2 separate regions of the Homo sapiens genome follow, and region 1 is linked to region 2. The links come from fine-mapping of genetic effects on gene expression. A gene starts in region 2. The other region holds a variant in brackets. All regions are shown on one strand. Distances are from middle to middle. Region 1 overlaps ST3GAL6-AS1 (ST3GAL6 antisense RNA 1). Region 2 holds the start of ST3GAL6 (ST3 beta-galactoside alpha-2,3-sialyltransferase 6).

Region 1 (5,532 bases), 41 kb before region 2:
GCATGGTGGCGCATGCCTGTAGCCCCAGCTACTCAGGTGGCTGAGGCAGGAGGATCACTTGAGCCTTGGAGGTTGAGGCTGCAGAAAGAAAAAAGGAATTTGCCTACCTACATTAAAGCAGTGGCCTTGAGGCCGCATCATGAAGTCCAGCATTATAATACTGGTCACAGATGCGGTCACAACTTTTTAATATCTAAATTTCTAAAACATCTGTCTATGAGATTAAAAAAAGAGAGTGATAACAAGTCAAATAAAGCATTTCATCCTCAAAGTATTTTGGATTCTGATGATCAGTGATAGATGGAGGCTTTGGGCTTCAAGTTAATAGACTGTTGCACTGAGGACATGAAATATTTATTACTGTATTTAGTTTTGTCTATCTCCTTATAACTTTGCATTTTCTAAATAACCTAGGCTTGTTATTCATCCTGTGAAACAGAGATATTATCTGCCTCACAATCTTCCAATAATTATTTTAACTTTTAAGTTGGTATATTTAATCCTTTAAACTATGATTTTTAAAGTGTGGCCCCTGGACTGGCAGCATCAGCAACTTCTGGGAGCCTGTTAACAGTACAAAGTCTCATATCACACTTTAATCCTACAGAATCAGAAACCCTAGGCAGGCATCAGTGATCCATGCTATGGCTTTGAGCTATGTTAGGTGGTATGAATCAGAGTGTCCGAGCACTGAAGATTTTTTTGGAAAGCCATTTCACATCTCAGTGGCTGAGAATCCTGAGATAGAATCGTTCTTCTGGCAAATCTTGGGTACATGCATGCTTTATTTAAAGCAAAGATAAGGCAATACTAGTAAAGAAAAATTAAGAAAAAAAGAGACAATTATATTCTGCATAAAGCACATCACCAATTCCATCTTTCCTGATGTACCTAGGAGGTTGTGTCCTTTTTTCTATTAATGCTGTTTATGTCTAATAGTTGCAATATGCTGAAATAGTATTAGTCTACATATCTGCTATGGTCTGAATGTTTGTGTTTCCCCCAAACATGTTGTACCTAGTCCTCAATGCAATAGTGTTAAGAGGTGGGGTTAGGAGGTGATTAGGTCATGAAGGAAGAGCCTTATAAGAGATTAATTCCCTTATCAAAGAGGCATCAGAGAGCTGGTTGGCCCCTTGCACCAGGGGAGGACAAAGAAGTTGTCATCTATGAGAAAGCAAGCCTTCTCCAGACACTAAATCTGCCAGCACCCTGATCTTGGACTTAACGGCTTCCAGAACTATAAGAAATAAATGTTTTTTGTTTACAAGCTACCCAGTTTATGGTATTTTGTTATAGCAGCTTGAATGAACAATGTCTGCAAGCATCATCAAGATAGGGAACCTGTCTGTTCACCACTGTATTCTCTGAACCTAGCTCAATGCATGACAAGTATGAATCTCAGTAAATATTTTTAGTCTCAATGACTATTTTCCTCATATCACCTCCCAAGGCAGAAACTCCATCTAGAACTGTGTATGTCCAGTGCCTACAATGCCACTGTGCTGGACACATAGGTTCTCATGAAATATGTAAAGCAATAAATTAATGAAGGTGTGATACACATATCAAATATCATTCCAATATTCAGTTCACATTCTGATGTACTATCAAGTTGTGCTGGAAATAAGTAGACATAGGTTGATGCCAAAGGAATTTCTGTTGCACTAAGACTTTGATTGTAAAAGTATTTAATGCTAGAGAATTTACATTGCACAAGCTGCTTCTATAGAAATGAGAAAAGCCAGCAGACAAAATAATAGAAAATTATTTCAGACATTTATCCAGATTTGGACCAGAATCTATTTTATTATGCATGAACTAAAACATAAATACTTATATAATAAAATATTAGAAAATGCTGGCCGGCTGCGGTGACTAATGCCTGTAATCCCAGCACTTTGGGAGGCCGAGGTGGGTAGATCACTTGAAGTCAGGAGTTCAAGATCAGCTTGGCCAATATGGTGAAACCCCATCTCTACTAAAAATACAAAAATTAGCCAGGCATGGTGGCATGCACCTGTAATCCCAGCTATTCAGGAGGCTGAGGCAGAAGAATGTCTAGAACCCAGGAGGTGGAGGTTCCGGTGATCCGAGATCACGCCACTGCATTCCAACCTGGGCGACAGAGCGAGACTCTGTCAAAAAAAAAAAAAAAAAAAAAAAAAAAAAAAAAAAAAAAAGGAAATGCTGATAGATGTATGGTTTCAAAAATACAGTGATGATTTTATATTAAACCTGTCACTGCAAGTTTGCCAAGCAATTTTCTTCTAAATATATTTCTAGAGCTGGGTGCAGTGGCTCACACCCATAATCCCAGTACTTTGTGAAGCCAGCTTGGGAGGATTGCTTGAGGCCAGATATCTAAGGCCAGCTTGAGCAACATAGCAAGACTCCCTGTCTACAAAAAAAAAAA[T/A]AAAATAAATAAATAAGTAAAGATAGATAGATAGATAGACAGACAGACACACAGATAGATAGATATGCCGTGTGTGGTAGTATTATCCCTTAGTCCTAGATAGTCAGGAGGCTGAGACAGGAGGATTGAGCCCAGGAGTTGAGCTTGCAATGAATAACTGTGCCATTGACTCCAGCCCTGTCTCTAAAATAAATTAATAGATTGATAAATAAATTCCTAATGAAATAAAGTGACTTTCATCTTTAACCCTTTATAGTCACAGTTGATTTTATCAAAGATCCCAGCTGTTGGTCCTCCAACTGGATATATACAGACCCAAATCTACAGCAATTGGTTTTTTTATTGTTGTTTTAATTTGTTTTGGGAGATAGAGATAGGAGATTATGATAGAATACTGAATAAAAAAGTCTTTGACACAAAAACAAGCTTGTTTAGATCTGTTTAACATTTAAGGAAAGTTAAACAGCTTTCCTTTTTGCTGTTTTTACCTGGTTCTTTAATATGCTAATATGTACTGAATATGGCCTGGAGGCAGGGGTGTGGGAGGCGAGGTTAGTACTCAATCTTGTTTGCGAGATATCCTTTGTTCTTAGAACTCAGATTAGCATCTCCCAGCACGATACAATTTGGAAAAGGCTACTCAATTCCTAAAGTACTGAATCTTTTCCGAAATAACATTTACAAAGAAGGGAAAACTGTAAGGTCTGGGCTGCTGCATCAGACAGCTGTTTACTTAATAGGCCATTCCCAGATCTTTCTTTTTAAGGATAGTAAGAAAAGCACAATTTTTACAAGGAAAAAAATGGAAATGTAATGACAAACTTGAAATTTAGTCTTAAAGTTAAAAAAAAAGTAATGACATGAATTAGTTACTTGTTATCAATATTTCATCAAACCTCAGAAAGTTGAGAATTAAATTATATCTGTTCTCCTCAGTTAAAATTTTTATTTTTATGTCAGAGTCAATTGAGAGGGTTCCTAAAAGAGCACTGGATCCCCCGCTTCTGTCAGGTGAGTTTGTGTGTCTTTGCTTTGGACCCACGGAGACCTGGGTTTGCCTCTGGTTCTGTCCTTGACTGTTTCTGCTCTCATCATATTACCTCAGTAATATCTAACTACTAGATTTGTTGCTATTAGATATGATAATGAATGCAAAATCCCCTCTCCCCTCTTTTTTTTTTGAGATGGAGTCTTGCTCTGTTGGCAGGCTGGAGTGCTGTGGTGCGCTCTCAGCTCACTGCAACCTCCGACTCCCTGGTTCAAGCGATTCTCCTGCCTCAGCCTCCCAAGTAGCTTGGATTACAGGCACACGCCACCACGCCCAGGTAATTTTTGTATTTTTAGTAGAGATGAGGTTTCACCCTGTTGGCCAGGATGGTCTTGAACTCCTGACCTCGTGATCCGCCTGCCTCGGCCTCCCAAATTGCTGGGATTACAGGCGCGAGCCACTGTGCTCGGTCTTTTTTTTTTTTTCCCCCTGCTTCATCTGACTTCTTGTCTGTTGAGGGCTTTCATATATTTGGGGTGGCCATATTTTGCCTTGTGTTGATAGATGACTGTTAAACAGGAATTACTCTTAAATCTCTTTATGTTCCCACATATATCCCTGCTGTAAATATTTATCACTCCTCCATCTCAAGAAGGTAACAGAGCTTTGGTGTTCTGTTGGCTCAGTGATTTTTTGGTTACAGAATAAAAACTAAAAGTCACCAGATATCCAGAAGACAACTCAACTTGTGTTTCTTTTGTTTAGAAATCTTAGACTGATTGAGTCAGAGAAGCAGGAGTCCACTGTTGTGCTTCATGTTAGGGGAATGAGCGTGGCGAGGTGGAAGAGGCAGGTTATTCTACAGAGAAAGAGAAAAGAAACCTAAGGAGAGAAAGAGTTTGGGCGACTAGCCCAAGACTGAGAAGTAGAATGGTGAGTTGTGGATCCCTGGGATAGCATCGCACAGATCCCAGCTCTAGGTGACCTCCCACAGGGAATGCGAATGAACACTATGGGAGGGGAAGCACAAGTGAAACAGAGATAAAGCGATCAACAAGATGACCTCTGAAGACTCTTTCTGGACACCATTAAATATTAGACTGTAAGCAGCCAGGCATGGTGGCTCACACCTGTGATCCCATTACATTGGGAGGCCAAGCGGAGGATCACTTGAAGCCATGAGTTGGAGCAGCAGCCTGGGCGACATAGTGAGACTTTGTCTCTACAAAAAATAAATAGCCGGTGTGGTGGTGCGCACCTGTAATCTGAGCTATTCAGGAGGCTGAGGTGGAAGGATCACTTGAGCCCAGGATTTGGAGGCTATAGTCAGCTATGATTGTGTTATTCATTATACTCGAGCCTGGGTGACAGAGCAAGACCCTGTCTCTAAAAATTTTATAAAATAAAAATAAAAAATTTGCTCTCTCTCGAGGGTGGGAGAGAGAGAGAGAGAGAGCGAGCGAGCACCTCTAGAGAGAGCAAGCAATAATTTCTTTTTATTTTCCTGCTGGTAAACTGTACTCCTAGCACCTAGAACTATAGTGCCTGGCAAATAGTAGGCACTAAGTAAAGATGTATTTAATGATTGAATATGAAGTATGTTAATGACATGAAGGAGGAAAGTTCAAGTAAGATGAGAAAAAGGAGAGGTCAGGATGACTGAGGTTTCATAAGTGGGAGAAAAAGCATTATCACCAATAAAAATGTAAGTTAAATGGCTGGCTGAGCTGGAAGCCTAAAGAGTTTAGCTTTACATTGGGAACTGATAAACACATGTTAAACTGAATGTTCAGCAGGCAATTGGAGATACAAGACTAAGACTTAAGAAAGTAGTCAGAGCTAGGAATAGAAGACTCGCTAGTCCCTCAATGGAAGTTGGGTAATGAATCCTTGAGAGATCTCAGATACAGAGTAAGTGTTGGAGGTAGGCGGTACTGAACTGGAAGGGACATGCACCTTTTCTGAAGTGATGTTCAAATGAACCTGTGAATAATCCTGGGGTTAAGTAAAATTTAGGAACAACTTCCAAATCTTTAGTATTGGTGTGTTACTGTTTTTCAGCCTGTGGATTAGAGTTTTGTCTGAGACATTGTCAGTAAGCAGGACTCTTCACTATCAAGGGCCCAGG
Region 2 (5,000 bases):
AATGAACTCCTGGTACAAGCAACAACTTGAGCATTTTTTTAAAAAGTATTATGTTAATTGACAGAAGTCAGAAATAAGATATATATTATATGATTCAATTTATATGAAATTTTAGAAAAGCAAAACTATAGTGATAGCAGATCAGGCTGCTAGGGGCCAGGAAGTGGGAAGAAGGAAGTGACTACAAAGAGGAACAAAGGAACTTTTGAGGTTGATGACAATGTTTAGAATCATGACTTCAGTGGTTGTTACCTGATACACTTAAAAGTGGCGAATTTTAGTGTATAAAAATTTTATCCCCAGCTACTCAGGAGGCTGAGGCAGGAGGATTACTTGAGCCCAGAAGTTAGAGACCAGGCTGGACAGTATAGTGAGACCCTGTCTCAAAAAAAGGAAAAAAATGAATAAAGGCAATTTTAAAAATTACACACAGGCTGGGCATGGTGGCTGATGCCTGTAATCCCAGCACTTTGGGAGGCCGAGGTGGGTGGATCACTTGAGGTTAGGAGTTCGAGACCAGCCTGGCCAACATGGCAAAACCCCATCTCTATTAAAAATACAAAGAATTAGCCAGGCATGGTGGCACGTGCCTATAGTCCCAGCTACTTGGGAGGCTGAAGCAGGAGAAATTGCTTGAACCCGGGTGGTGGAGGTTGCAGTGAGCCAAGATTGCATCACTACACTTCAGCCTGGGCAACAGAGCAAGACTCCATCTCAAAAAAAAAAAAAAAAAGTAGCCACAGTCATCAACCTGTTAACAACATCTAATGCTTCTTGGAAGCTGATATCTTATTAGCAGGATGTTAATAAGAGAATACAGGGACAATTTTTACTTTAAGAGAATAAATGGGCATGGAAAGAAAATGTGAATAAACAGTAGGAACAAAAGAAGTTCCCTAAAAGCTTACTTGTGTACTTGCAATGGACCTGAGTCTGAAGAGAGAGCTCTTGAAAACAGGAACTCCAGTTCTTCTATTTTTAGCATCCCATATAGTTGCTATTAGCTGAATGATTTTAGTGTGTCCTGTTGTGCTATTAAAGAAGAAAATTCTGCTGAGAAGTCATTTCTCTCCTTTTTATATTCTTTGCAGTGAGCACACCCCACTTTCAGGAGAGGATCTGGTCATCTGCTTTGGCAGAAGGCTTATCTTTAATTAAGTGAAAAGATCTGTCTACATGTGCTAAGGACAGTGAAAGCACTGGTGAAAGCACTGGCTTTGTTGAAAAGCTGAAAGAGAAGGGTGTTTGTGCATATGCATGTCGGAACCAGCTTCATATCATTGTATTAGCAGAAGAGTTGGGGGAGGAGAGGGAAAGAAAGTTAATTATACGTGTTCCCTTTCTGCAATGCAGAAAGAAAATAGTTATATTCTTAGAAATCAGTCAAAATGTATACAGCTGATCTAATTTGTTGACACTACACAACTCAATATTTTTGGAGGGGGGCATAAATCAGATTTTCTGTTAATTTACTCAGCAATGTCAGAGTTTTTTTCTTAACTTGTATTAAATAGCATTAGTTTATAACTTCAGATTAAATTTAGCCTTTTCGTTGTAATATTGTATGTTTAAAAAATCTATATGTGCTGTTTTTTATTTCTTTAATTATGGTCTATTGAGAATTTCGTCATCCTTCTAGCAGAAAATCCCATCAACCAGACTACTGATTCCTTAGGATTTCTCTCTTTAATTATGAGATTAATAGCTTTTCATATTATAATGTTTCTAAAGAAGTGTGTTTGATAAATGCATAATTTAATGTGTATCATCCCCTTGTTTTATTTTTAAAAGATATTATTAAATGATTATTTAACAGTTCATACTCTTAAAAATATGGTTATTATAGTTTTCTATAAGCCACAATTTCAAAGTGTGGGCTTTGAAATCAGATCTCAGTTTGAATTCTGGCCAGTGCTCTGGGTATTAAACATATCTAGCATGGGGATGAAAATATCCGTGATTTCATCCTTATGTGAAAAAGGGCTTAGTACTGTGCTGGCCATTTAGTAAGTGGTTAATAAACTGTGCTATCATTTACATGATCATCGCTGCCAGAGGTTGTAGATCCTTGGGATATGAATGAAGCTGATCTCACGCATTTGGACTACCTAATTAGTAATAAGGACCAAACCTAAAAGAGAGGTAGTAAATGAATTGAGGAGGACTGAGGCCTTTCCATTCATCACTGTGGAGTCCTGTACATTAAGGCTCAGGTCATATGGAGATGGCTGGGTCTGTGAGGCTTAGGCTTAGGGGACCTATGAGGCTGGACCAAAAAAAATCTAGACATTAATGCATGGCTAGAGTTGGAGGTTCTGTTGTAGATTTGCTCATGTAGGCATGTGACTGCAGATTATAATCACAAATTGAGTAATAAGTACAAAGAGGAAGGAAGGCAGGATGTGAAATCTGTTGGCCATGTTCCACACAGTCTGGAGTGTATGTCAGTGTGAGCTGAAGACCAGCAGAGACTAGGATGGATGACGGCCTGTCCAGGGGCTGAATGGACACAGGTGTCAGCAGGGCCACCTGGTAAAGGTATGGAGGTGAGCCATGAACAAGGTTACCTGCTTAAGGGGAAGGTTGTGGCTTAAATCTAGATGCTGCTGAGATATTAGACATTAGGTGCCCACAGGCTGTGTGGAGGTAGAAGGGGGATGTGCTTCTCTTATTTGCACAAAGATGTGAGTTACTGAGGAGTATTATTGAACAGCAGCATGTTGGGTTTGAGAAGAGACCTAGTAGTAGAAAGAGTAGTATGTCTGCCACTGAGGAAGCAGGGAACAGAAGGGTGCCTCACCCCAGGGCAGATGGGGACATGGTTTAGGATCCTAGTGACTAAAAAAAAAAAAAAAAAAATGGAAGTTTGGCTGCAGAGCTGCTAGGGTGACTAGGAAAGAGAAGAATGCAGACGTTGGAAAAGTGTGGTATAGTTTAAGCACCCAGCAGCAGGAACCCAGGTCCAGTGGATGAGATGACCAGGATCACTACTGGATCCACAGGAACCTGACCCAACTGTTAAGCTGCTAGTCGAGGGCTCCTCAGACTCTCTTTCTGTGGGTCAGAATCAGTCCCAGTGCCTGGGGTGGCTGGGCTTGCAGATGGGCATTAGGAAGCACCTGCTTCCAGACTGAAACAGAACTGGGGATGGAGGAGACAGGGAGGTGAGGTTTGTGTGTGCTCAGCATCCGGAATAGAGAACGCCAAGGGTCTTTCTTCCTTGGTGTTGCATATTGACTGAGATACCCACCGGGTTTTTCTATTAGGTTGGTTTTAAATGACAAAAACCACAATTACTTTTGCACTAACCTAATGCTTGATAAGTAGAACAATGTTTCTAGAATTATTGCTGAACATGCTTTTTTCTAGCTGGTTGGAAAAGCAAGCTCCCTTTGGTTTGAGAAAGCATTAGGGGAGTCTAAAAAAAAACCTGACATTTTTTTCAAGTGTTTCTCCGTAGAGTTTGTTTTTATAAACAATGCTAGCATGGTTGGGAGGAGCAGAACTGGGAACAGGGTTGGGAGTAACAGGCTTTTATTTCAGCTGAGTTTGAATCAAAAGTATTATAAGCTTTACCTCCATTTCATCAATTACTAGAATTGATATTGCTTAAGGAGCTTGCAGGATTGCTTAAGTTGGAGAAATGTTCAGTAATGTTTAGTCTGGTAGCAAAAGGAGGGGCCTGTGCTCACTTGTGAAAGCTCACATCTAGGGGGAGGTAGTATAACGCATGGCCTGTGGCCTGATAGAGACAGATTTGAGTCCTCGTTCTGCTACTTGTCAGCTCAACAAAGTCGTTGCTTCTCCCAGAGTTTTGGTTTCCTCCTCTACAAAATAGGAATTGTAAGTCTACCACTTCTTTTGCAAGGTGGTTGTCAGGATGTCATGAGGTAATACACCAAAAGCAATTATCACATGCCTTGGCACAGGCTAAGCACTCATACATCTTAATGCTTCTAATCAGTTGTTATTCATTGAGCATTTACCACGTGCTAGGCATTTAGGGTAAAAAAAAATAATACAAAGCATCTAGTTATGGGATCTGTATCTGTTACAGTCTCTGTATTTCAGAAATTCTTCCATGGTTCTATTGTATTTCTTAGAGCAGTGATTCTCAAAATTTTAGTGTGCATAAGAATCAAATTGGTGGATGCTGTTTAAATGCACATTCCTGAGCCCCAGAGATTCAGATTAAGTAGAGGCTCAGGAGTGTGCATGTTAACAAGTCCCCGCCTGGTGCAGACTCTTGAGCCTGCCCTAGAGTCACCTCCTTTCACCAATATCTGAATTTACCCTTCTAGACTTCAAGATACCAATGGAACACCATTAGGAATTTTCAGATTAGAATTATCTCTTTTAGATTTGCCTTGTGCTTTTTATCTTGAGAGACAGGATAACACCAGGAATGGAACTCTGAGAAAGAAATGATTGAACCATAAATCTATTTCTGTCTTCCTTAAACTGTGTGACCTCAGACAACTCAACCTTATAAACCTTCAGTTTTCCTCATTCATCAAGAAGACAACACCTGCACACCCATCTAACAAGCTTATTTTGAGCCTTAAATGGAGGGATGGACATATAAAAGATTTTTTATGAACTTTGATGCTCCACACAAAATATGCTTTTACTATTAAAGCAAAGTGAAACATTTGTCAAGATTGAGTTTAATTTGGCATATATAGGTTACTTATACATTGGGTTACATATCTTAGTTGGAGAATATGTGAACATTTGTCCTCTGCCAGTGAGTCCTTCTTTCCCTTGCCATCCTCTACCCACATTTTTGTAAAGGATGTTTTAGGGACCCTGATTTTAGGAGCATCTGCAGCCACAAAGCTGGCATTGGTCCTGTTTAATGTCAAGATCTTGAAAACTCTTTTTTTTGGTAATCAAAGCTATATTAAAGGGCCTTATGTCTTTTTAAAAGCAGATAACCTCTTAAATTCTGTTTTTTTCTTTGAATGTTTTTGCTCAAAGCAAAATGCCCTTCCACTTAT

Evidence for each region. PIP is the estimated chance that this variant, and not a neighbour inherited with it, causes the effect.
Region 1: its variant is the best candidate, but not a certain one, in a credible set for the expression of ST3GAL6 in testis (GTEx, PIP 0.54).

Annotation. Positions count from the first base shown.
Region 1 is chr3:98,719,622-98,725,153 of GRCh38, forward strand. The region is part of intron 1 of ST3GAL6-AS1 (ST3GAL6 antisense RNA 1); the gene reads right to left. Among named protein-coding and RNA genes, the nearest start is that of ST3GAL6-AS1, 10 kb to the right of the region's middle. The variant T/A (reference allele first, on the strand shown) is at 2,417.
Region 2 is chr3:98,760,894-98,765,893 of GRCh38, forward strand. It overlaps ST3GAL6 (ST3 beta-galactoside alpha-2,3-sialyltransferase 6), which reads left to right and starts at 2,447. Exons shown (of 10, transcript NM_001323368.2): 1 at 2,447-2,546.